Homo sapiens: one gene and its partners. The protein of the gene in region 1 interacts with the protein of each later gene in a pairwise test. Each region holds a gene or a part of one and is shown in the gene's direction. Other genes may lie near its edges.

Evidence for each region.
Region 2: the proteins of TRIM14 (region 1) and ERCC3 interact in binary tests that used the Homo sapiens proteins (3 or more experiments, as listed by UniProt).
Region 3: the proteins of TRIM14 (region 1) and SPG21 interact in binary tests that used the Homo sapiens proteins (3 or more experiments, as listed by UniProt).

The regions. Positions count from the first base shown.
Region 1 is NC_000009.12:98,088,028-98,091,760, reverse strand, and holds part of TRIM14 (tripartite motif-containing protein 14), read left to right. Parts: intron 1-3,733.
Region 2 is NC_000002.12:127,259,838-127,263,247, reverse strand, and holds part of ERCC3 (general transcription and DNA repair factor IIH helicase/translocase subunit XPB), read left to right. Parts: intron 1-1,901; coding exon 1,902-2,020; intron 2,021-3,410. UniProt on the Homo sapiens protein: ATP-dependent 3'-5' DNA helicase/translocase. Binds dsDNA rather than ssDNA, unzipping it in a translocase rather than classical helicase activity. Component of the general transcription and DNA repair factor IIH (TFIIH) core complex.
Region 3 is NC_000015.10:64,983,415-64,986,914, reverse strand, and holds part of SPG21 (maspardin), read left to right. Parts: intron 1-3,321; 5' UTR 3,322-3,345; coding exon 3,346-3,408; intron 3,409-3,500. UniProt on the Homo sapiens protein: May play a role as a negative regulatory factor in CD4-dependent T-cell activation.

The DNA.
Region 1 (3,733 bases):
TTTATTATTAAAGGCAATAAAACAATACATGTTCATTGTAGAAAAATTAGAAAATGAAAGAAAAAAGTTACTCATAATCCCTCTTCTGTGAATAACTGCTATTATTATTTGTCCTTTTAGCTTTTTTAGCACATCTAATATGCATATAATGATATATTTAATATATCTTTTTATGTTACAAACGTGGTGTCATACTATACATACTGTTTTGTCATCTGTTTTCATTTACTGATATATTATGAACATATATATATTTGGGATTTATACAGTGAGCCACTGTGCCCAGCTAATATTATCACTATGTGTGTGTGTGTGTGTGACCGAGTCTTGCTCTGGAGTGCAGTGGTGCAGTCATGGCTCACTGCAGCCTCGACCTCTTGGGCACAAATGATTTTCCCACCTCAGCCTCCCTCATAGCTGGGACTATCAGTGTGTGCCACCATGCCCAGCTAATTTTTTATTTTTATCATTGTTTTTAGAGGTTGCATGGCATTGCATTGAATGGATGTGTCATATTTAGCCAATCTCATAATGTTGGATGTTTACATTTTCATTTCTAAAACAATGCTGTAATAAACATCCATTCTTGTACACATTTGTTGAATTGAATTAATGAATGAGAGAATGAACACACCATACCTCATTTTCAGATTATTTTTTAGGAGTAATTTCTCAAGTGGAATTACTGGGTGTCAACCTAAAAAAGACTCAATCTAAAGAAGGCTCAGTATCCAGTTAGCAGAGTTTATTCAAGTGCAAAGTAACCATCAGGAGACAGAGGGAAACCAAAGAATGGTGATCACTGCCCCTGGTGTTGGGAGGGGGACAGTGAATATCAAAACAGAGGCACTGAATAAATTTACATTTTCCATACAAAGGCTAACATACTGATTTAAAGGCCGAGCACGGTGGCTCACACCTGTAATCCCAGCACTTTGGGAACCCAAGGCAGGTGGATCACTTGAGGTCAGCAGTTCGAGACCAGCCTGCACAACATGGTGAAACCCTGTCTCCACTAAAAATACAAAAATTAGCTGGGCATGGTGGCATGCACCAGTAGTCCTAGCTGCTCAGGAGACTGAGGCAGGAGAATCGCTTGAACCCGGGAGGCGAAGGTTGCAGTGAGCCGAGGTCGCACTACTGCACTCCAGCCTGGCAACAGAGCAAGACTCCGTCTTAAAAAAAAAAAAAAAAAAAAAAGTGCACAAATCAAAAATGTGCAGATCAATCAGCTCAATGATTTTTTAAAAAGGAAACATATTTTGTAACCACCTTCAGATCAAGAAATGGAAATTTCCACTCCCCAGAAGTCTTCCTCATGTGCCTTCTTGTTTACTATCCCCAAAGGGGATCCACTCTCCAGACTTCTAGGACTATAGGTTAGTTTTACCTGTTTTTGAACTTTCAGTAGATCATTCACACTATACCCTTCTGTGTTTTGCTTCTTTCACTCAATATGAGATTTATCCATTTTTGTATATTGACATACTGAGTGGCTGTTATAAATTCACTTAGTACTTCTAAGCTATCTACAGATTATTTGGGTTTTTGTGTAAATAAGCATGTCACCTATGAATAATAATCTTTCATTTCCCCGATCTTTATTCTTTCCTTTCACTTCTTTTTCGTGCCTTGAGTTACTGTCTACTACATTTAGAACATTGTTGAATAGAAGTGGTTATAATGAGCAGCATTTTCTCCCACCTTAGACATATATCCAACAGAAATGCATACATATGTGAATCAAAAGACCTGCACAAGAATGTTATGTGACCGAAACACAGGTTCAGTTGCTCAACGCTTTGCAGAGTTCAATTAACAAGAGCGAGGTCTGGTATAAAGAAAGTGGTTTTATTCTAAAGATTAGCTTAGGGGAAGAGGTACAGGCTCCTCCTGCCCTTAACGGTACCGCCTCACTTTTGGGGCAGAAAGCAGAGGCTTTTAAATGGGGACTTTGTATGAATGGCATGCAGGGAAGGAGCAAGCAGATGGGGGTCTATATGACTCATTTTGATGCGTTTTCTACCAAGTGGTTGAGCTGGTGCCATTGAGGGCAGAACTAGGTTGTAATGTGGCCGTTGTCTTGAGATGCTGTCCGGGTGGAAGAGTTCTGTTGAAGGCATACTTTATGTTGTAAATTGACTGTTGTCTCTTAAGGCAATCTCCTGGTGGGAGAAAGTTCTGGTTCTAGACCCTCTAAGTAGGTAGATAAGTTTGCCCTGTAGGGACTATCTGGTGAAGGGAAGGTAATGGTTATAATTACATTTCTAAAGAGCTAAGTAGAGGCAGGGCACAGTGGCTCACACCTGTAACCACAGCACTTTGGGAGGCTGAGGCAGGCGGATCACCGGAGGTCAGGAGATCAAGACCAGCCTGGCCAACATGATGAAACCCTGTCTCTACTGAAAATACAAAAATTAGCCAGGCGTGGTGGCAGGTGCCTGTAATCCTAGTTACTAGGGAGCCTTAGGTAGGAGAATCGCTTGAACCCAGGAGGCCGAGGTTGCAGTGAGTCGAGATCACACCACTGCACTCCAGCCCGGGCAACAAGAGTGAAACTCCATCTTAAAAAAAATAAAAATAAAGAGCTAAGTAGGAAGTGGGAGACAGGAGAAAAAGGGGGAAAATCTTAAAAATAATTCATTCTCTTTCTCTTAGAAAAATGCTCTTTTTCTTAGAAAACTCAGTCTCTGTTACACGTTTACAGTTATAGCAACATTAGTCACAATAGGCAACACGGAAACAATCCAAATGTCCATGGAAAACTGTTTGGCCTTGTTTATGAAAGCTGAATATCCACATACCCTGTGATCCAGACTTAAAAAACAACAACAACAACAACAAAAAAAACTTCATGTGTACATACATGGTGTAATGCAAAGAGAAATGTTAATGAGAGTTTAAATCACTACAAACTTTGGGGAGGATAGTTTTGCAATATGTATCAAAGACCTTAAAAAAATACCCATTGACCCAGCAATTCCTGTTTTAGGAGTATATTCTACAGAAGCAATCAGATACGTAAAAATGTAATTGTATTAGTGGTTTCAAAAGCTTTTTAAACGGAGGACTAAGTTATGCGTCCAAACATCAAAATTTTAGAATCTCCACTAAAATGCTCTTGTGAAAGGATATTATGATGTGTCAAAATGCCTCACAAGTAGATCAATCAATTTTAAAAAGCAGATTACCTAACGTCATGTATGGTGTGACACCAATATTAAGAAAAGCTATAAAAATTAGCCGGGCGTGGTGGTGGGCGCCTGTAGTCCCAGCTACTCGGGAGGCTGAGGCAGGAGAATGGCCTGAACCTGGGAGGCGGAGCTTGCAGTGAGCGGAGATCGCGCCACTGCACTCCAGCCTGGGCAACAGAGCGAGACTCCGTTTCAAAAAAAGAAAAAAAAGAAAAAGAAAAGCTATAAAGCAGCAAGGGGAGGGGAAAGATAGGAAGTACACACACCCTAATGTTAACAGTGATAGGATTAGTTTTAATTAAATTTGTATTAATTGGCAACAAATTTCACGGCACAAAATACAGACAGTATAAGGGATGTGCAGCAGAGTGATCTCTTCTTCCCCTTTCCCCAAGACCCCGCCCCAGGGGCAGTCGCGGTTTAAAGGGGTCTGTCACCCCTTCCTTGGGCCATTTCCGCGCTTCGCATTTTGTGATTTGCACGTGCGTTGGTGGGTTCCCGGGGGCGGGGCGCCGCGCTGGCCCCGCCCACCAGGTGCG
Region 2 (3,410 bases), on another chromosome or scaffold:
CCCAAAACAATCTACAGATTCAACACTATTCTATCAAATTGCCAACATCATTTTTCACAGAATTAGAAAAAAAACTTATAAAATTCATCTGGAACCACAAAAGCACCTGAATAGCCAAAGCAATCCTAAGCAAAAGGAACAAAGCCAAAGGCCTCACAGTATCCAACTTCAAACTATGCTACAGGGCTTACAGTAACCAAAACAGCATGGTACTGGTACAGAACAGGCACATAGACCAATGGAGCAGAATAGAGAGCTCAGAAATAATGCCATGTACCTGCAGCCAACTGATGTTCAACAAAATTGGCAAAAATATGCAGTGGGGAAAGTACTCCCTATTCAATAAATGGTGCTGGGGAAACTGGCTAACTGTATGCAGAAGGATGAAACCAGACCCCTGCCTATCACCACATACAAAAATCAACTCATAATGGATTAAAGATGTAAATGTAAGACCTCAAACTATAAGGATCCTCGAAGAAAACCTAGGAAATACAATATTCACAAAGTTGTGCAACTATCAACACAATTCATGTTTAGAATATTCTCATCAGCTCCCAAAAGAAACCCTCATCCATGCACAGCCACTCCTAATTTCCTCTTGTTCCCAACCCCCAGCTCTAGGCAGCCCCTAATCTACTTTGATGTCTGTAGGCCTTTTCTGGACATTTCATGTAAATGCAGTCAGACCACTTGGGGCCTTCTGTGACTGGTTTCTTTTCACTTAGCATAATGTTTTGTTTGTTTGTTTTTTGGAGATGGAATCTCGCTCTATCGCCCAGGCTGGAGTACAGTGGGGCGATCTTGGCTCACTGCAACCACTGCCTCGCAGGTTCAAGGGATTCTCCTGCCTCAGCCTCCCGCGTAGCTGGAATTACAGGCATGAGCCACCACGCCTGGCTAATTTTTCTATTTTTAGTAGAGATGGAGTTTCACCATGTTGGCCAGGCTGGTCTCAAACTCCTGACCTTGAGTGATCCACGCCCACCTCAGCCTCCCAAAGGGCTGGGATTACAGGACTGGGTCACCACACCCGGCAGCATAATGTTTTCAAAAAGATTATCTATATTGTAGCATCTGTCAGTACTTCATTCTTTTTTATTGCTAAATAATATTCGATTCCATGGACATACCACATTTTATTTATCCACACATCTGTTGATGGACATTTGGGCTGTTTCCACTTTTTGGCTCTTAGAAGAATTCTGCTATGAAATTCATGTACAAATTTTTGTGTGGATATAGTTTCATTTCTCTTGGATTTATGCCTGGAAGTGGAATTGCCAGGTCATGTGGTTATAACAGTGTGTTTAACATTTTGATGAACTGCCAGACTGTTTTCCAAAGCAGCCGCATCATTTACATTCTCAACAGCAATGCATGCGGGTTCTAGTTTTTCCACATCCTTGACAACAGTGGCAGTTATCTGCTTTTTTGATTGTAGCCATCCTCGGAGAGGGGCGTGAGGTGATAATCTCATTGTGCTTTTGAGTTGCATTTCCCTGGTGATTAATGGTGTGGAGCATCATTTCATGTGCTTACTGGCTATTTTTATATTGTTTTTGGAGAAGTAATCTGTTCATATTCTTCTCTCATTTATAATTAATTTGTCTTGTTGTTGAGTTTCAACAGTTCTTTGTATAACCTAGATACAAATCCCTTATCAGATATATGCTTTCCACATTTTTTTATTCTGAGGATTGTTTTTTCACTTGATGGTGTCCTTGGAAGCACAAAAGACTTCCAAATTTTGATGCAATCCCATGCCAAGTTCAGGTGGTAACCCCGAGTGCAGGGCTTTTCCACTCCAGTGCTTGCTTTTGAGCCTGGGACCCTTAGCTCTTGGCATTCTAATGGCTAATGTTGTCTTCTTTATTGCCGTTTCTCATTTTTTCCTGCAGGGATGGTTGCAGAAGAGTACAATGCCTTTTTCTACTCACTGGTATCCCAGGACACACAGGAAATGGCTTACTCAACCAAGCGGCAGAGATTCTTGGTAGATCAAGGTTATAGCTTCAAGGTACATATCCATTTGGCTTCTGGTTAGACTAGGACCAAGGCCTTCTTGATACCCTGGCCTCCAGGAGAAGCGAGGGCCACTGTCAGCAGGCAGGCACCAAGCATTAGGAGATTAGAGGCCTTGCCTCAAACTCCCTTTATCTCTGCATGAATCTCTGAGGGCAGCTGTTGGTGGAAAGTGTGCCGTCCTGGCAGGACTGAGGTGCCATGGCACTATGACCAGCACTGTGTGAATCTGAGCCCCGCAGGGCTGCTTTCTCAGGGATGCCTCTCTAGGTAGCTAGGAGAGCTCTTCCTTTCATCAGCTGGTAAGCTCCAGGCCTTAGTTTGCCTCAGTTTGCCTCCCAGACATCAGAGCTATCCTGTACTACAAATCAGGTATTTTAATAATTGGGAAATTCTAAAGCTTTGGCTAACTTTCACTGGCTGAGGCATTTGCTTTCTTTCCTGTTACACAAATATTACGTTTATGTCAGTATTTGGTGTCCAGAGGGCTTTATATTTTGGGGATAGATGGAGGGTTCTAGAAGTAGGGGAATTAAATTCCCCCTATGGTCCACTAAAAGGACATCCCTAGAACATTAGACTCCCAGGTTCTTGATTGCAAAAGACTGCAATCCAGGCTGCCTTTTGAGATACGTTTTTAATGTGTCTCTTTATGCATTGGTGAGAGTTCCCATTATTGGCCTTAGGAGGACAGGGTTGTCTGACCTTCCCTCTTTTAGCTAGAGGCAGTGACACTTCAGACCTCTCATGCTGGCCTAGAGGACAAGATGCTTGGGTTTTGAGCCCAGTTTTTTGGAGGATTTGCATCATGACCTTTTTATCCATCCATGAAAATCCCTGTTGGTAATAGCATTCCTACCTCCTGATTCCTGCCGAGCTGTGAGGGTAAGAGGAGCACCAGGTCAGAAAGAGCAATTCTTTGAAAGGTGACCTCGACAAAAAGGCACAATGCCATGCCGTAGTAGTTTGTGTTGGTTGGAGCTGTGTCTTCGGTGCTGCCTGTTGAGGAGCAGTGGTTGGAGTTCCCAGAGTCATGACGTGGAGTGGCTGGGCCTGGGCAGATGTGCACATCGTCTGTACTCTGGATCCCTGGCCCAGAAGGACTCAGATCCTTACTTCTAGGAATTTTCATTTAATGAACATTATGAGAATTGGAGGGAAGGAGAATTCCCTTTACAGAATCAACCCAAGTTTTCTGCAGGGATAGGGAGCCCTTGTAGTAAGTTATCCCCATAGAAATGAAAACCCAGTCTCCACCATGCTGTTCTTACTCTCTCAGAGAAGCTCTATAAATAATCTTCCTGATATCCTATCATTTTCATTTTCACGTGCTCATTCCTGCTGGAAGCCCCAGTTGCGGAGCACAGCAGATGCCAGGGACCTTC
Region 3 (3,500 bases), on another chromosome or scaffold:
GTTTCTAATAATGCAATACTAGGAAATGTCTCCATTAAGAAGTATTTAGATGATATAGAAGTATTTCAAGTCTGTCCAGGTAGAAAATATTCCAGAATTAAGTATATGTGCTAGTTGCTTTCAATTAAAAGTTATAATCAGCTTAGAGAAAGCCTATAGTTAAAATGGCTTAGTTTTTTTTTGTTTTTTGTTTTTTTGTTTTTTGTTTTGTTTTGTTTTGTTTTGTTTTGTTTTTGAGACAGACTCTCACTCTGTCACCCAGGCTGGAGTGCAGTCTTGGCTCACTGCAACCTCCGCCTCCTGGGTTCAAGCGATTCTCCTGCCTCGCCTCCCGAGTATTTGGGATTACAGGCGGCCACTGCCATGCCTGGCTAATTTTTTTTGTATTTTTAGTAGAGATGGGGTTTCGCCATGTTGGTCAGGCTGGTCTTGAACTCCTCACCTCAGGTGATCCACCTGCCTCAGCCTCCCAAACTGCTGGGATTACAGGTGTGAGCCGCCGCGCCTGGCAAAATTTTTTAACATATTAATTTTTTTGTTTGTTTTTTTGAGATTGAGTCTCACTCTGTCGCCCAGGCTGGAGTGCAGTGGCACAATCTTGGCTCACCGCAACCTCTGCCTCCCGGGTTCAAGTGATTCTCCTGCCTCACCCTCCTGAGTAGCTGGGACTACGGGCGTGCGCCACCACGCCAGGCTAATTTTTGTATTTTTAGTAGAGACAGGGTTTCACTACCTTGGCTAGGCTGGTCTTGAACTCCTGACCTCGTGATCCACCTGCCTCAGCCTCCCAAAATGCTGGGATTACAGGCGTGAGCCACTGTGCCTGGCCTTAACATATTAATATTTAAGATAAAATGGATATGCAAAGAATTTTCTTTATTTCACTATATATATCTGTGCACACTAATTTTCAGTATAAGACTGGCTGATGATTTTCTTGGTACTTTAAAGCAACTTATGATTTTAACACACTTCTCTAAAATTACCATCTTAGCTTTGAGAAGAGAGACCATTATCACAATGTCAAGGTTGTAAATCAAGTTTAGTGTTAGAATGTCTACATCTGCTGTCTCCTCGGGGTTCAGCTTAGTACGTCTCCAAGGTCACAGTTGAGTCTACTGAGGGCTCTGTGTTCCTGAGGGAGCAGATCTCGAGGGCCACCAAGGAAGAGTTCCATTGAGTTTAGAATCCCCTGTTCCTTGCCAGTCCAGAGAACTCCCTCTAAAACGACAGTTCAGAGTCAGCCCGGGAGTTAGGTCTCACGAATCTCACCTCGTGTTAGCCGTGCTAGGATCAAGGCTTGCTCTTGAGGTAGAGGAAGTGGTACAAAGCAAATATTTGAATCCTTCCTGGTGGAATTTCCTCACTTGGCAATAAGAATCTGCAACAGGGAACTATAATTTCAGTTTCCTGTTATGACATAGCACAGATGCCTGAGCAAAGAGGGGCAGCCTTTTAGTTGAGGATGTTCAGCTAGGCCAAAGCTCACAGATGCCAGGGTTAGAAGGATGGCCCCCTTCATTCTCCTTAGAATGTAGTTATTCGTTCAATCAACAGATAATGCCTGCTGTGTGCCAAGCACTGATCTAAGCTTTGGGGACACAGTGGTAACACAGTCATAGATGAGGAAACAAACTCCAAAAGGATCAAGACTTATCTAAGATCACAGAGCTATGAAAACCAGAAGTCACTAAGCTCACAACAAAAGACTACACATTTTTTCCTAAGGGCAAATGTTTCATTTTGTTGTTAGTTATAGTGCCTTCAAGTTTACATTATAGATCTTTCTGAGGACATTGTGTAACTTTTAATCACGTCCATATGAGTGGCAAATTTGCCTGTATTTTGTATTAAGAACTACATGTAGGCGGGGCACGGTGGCTCATGCCTGTAATCCCAGCACTTTGGGAGGCTGAGGCGGGTGGATCATGAGGTCAGGAGCTCAAGGCCAGCCTGGCCAAGATGGTGAAACCCCGTCTCTACTAAAAATACAAAAAATTAGCCGGGCGCAGTGGCAGGTGCCTGTAATCCCAGCTACTCAGGAGGCTGAGGCAGGAGAATCGCTTGAACTTGGAGGGTGGAGGTTGCAGTGAGCTGAGATCACGCCACTGCACTCCAGCCTGGGTGACAGAGTGAGACTCTGTCTCAAAAAAAAAAAAAAAGGGAACTACATGTGAATTTCTGGTTATGTGCTATTACAGTTAGATTTATGGTGTATTGCGAATTTATCAGGAAGCAGGCTTAACTTAAACTTCTTTCTCTAGGCTGGGTGTGGTAGCTCATACCCGTAATCCCAGCACTTTGGGAGGCAAGATGGGAGGATTGCTTGAGCCTAGGAATTCGAGACCAGTGCAGGCAACACAGGGAGGCCCCCATCTCTACAAAACCAAAAAATTCACCTGACGTGGTGGTGTGTGCCCATTGTCTCAGCTACTTAGGAGGCTGAGGTTGGGATAATCACTTGAGCCTCAGAGGTTAAGGCTGTGGTGAGCTGTGATTGTGCCATTGAACTGCAGCCTGGACAACAGAGCAAGACTGTCTCAAAAATTAAAAAAGTAAAAAAACATCAACTCCTTTCTCTAGCGTGGACTATCCCTATAATCAGACAGGAGCATCTTTATTAAAGGGATTCTTAAGGTAATGTCAAAAGATAACTGATGGTACTGCAGTTGAGAACTAAGACAGGAAGTATGGTGTCAGAAAAGGCTGTCTCACATCTGGTCCTAGCATTGCCATGTGATCTTGGGTAAGTCATTTAAATTTTCTAGACCAGATTCCTTTTCTGGAAGAACTAAGGGTGTTGGAATAATTTCTGTAAGAGCTCTTCTGGTGGCCGGGCATGGTGGCTCACGCCTGTAATCCCAACACTTTAGGAGGCTGAGGTGGGTGGATCACCTGAGGTCAGGAGTTCGAGACCAGCCTGGCCAACATGGTGAACCCCCATCCCTACTAAAAATACAAAAATTAGTTGGGCGTGGTGGCGGGCACCTGTAATCCCAGATACTCGGGAGGCTGAGGCAGGAGAATCACTTGAACTGCAGGAGGTAGAGGATGCAGTGAGCTGAGATCACGCCACTGCACTCCAGCCTGGGCAACAAGACTGAGACTGTCTCAAAAAAAAAAAAAAAAGAGTGCTTCTGATTCTGTGATTGTAGTATTTCACCAAATTGTTTTCTGTAGTTGGACTATATACTGACAAAATAGCCAGTTTCCTTGGCTTTCTTCTTTAAAATATTGTTGGTATAGCTAGATGAGACTCTACATTTAGTTCTGATGTAAACATGAATTCTTGACGTGAAATATCACATGCTTTTATTTCAGGATTAACCTCCATTTCAGCTAATCATGGGAGAGATTAAAGTCTCTCCTGATTATAACTGGTTTAGAGGTACAGTTCCCCTTAAAAAGGTATGTATGGTTTTACTATACCTCTTATTTGCAAAATCTTGTATTGTTTTTGTGTGTGATTTAGATGTCATGTCTTAGTAGTGTTTGAGAGT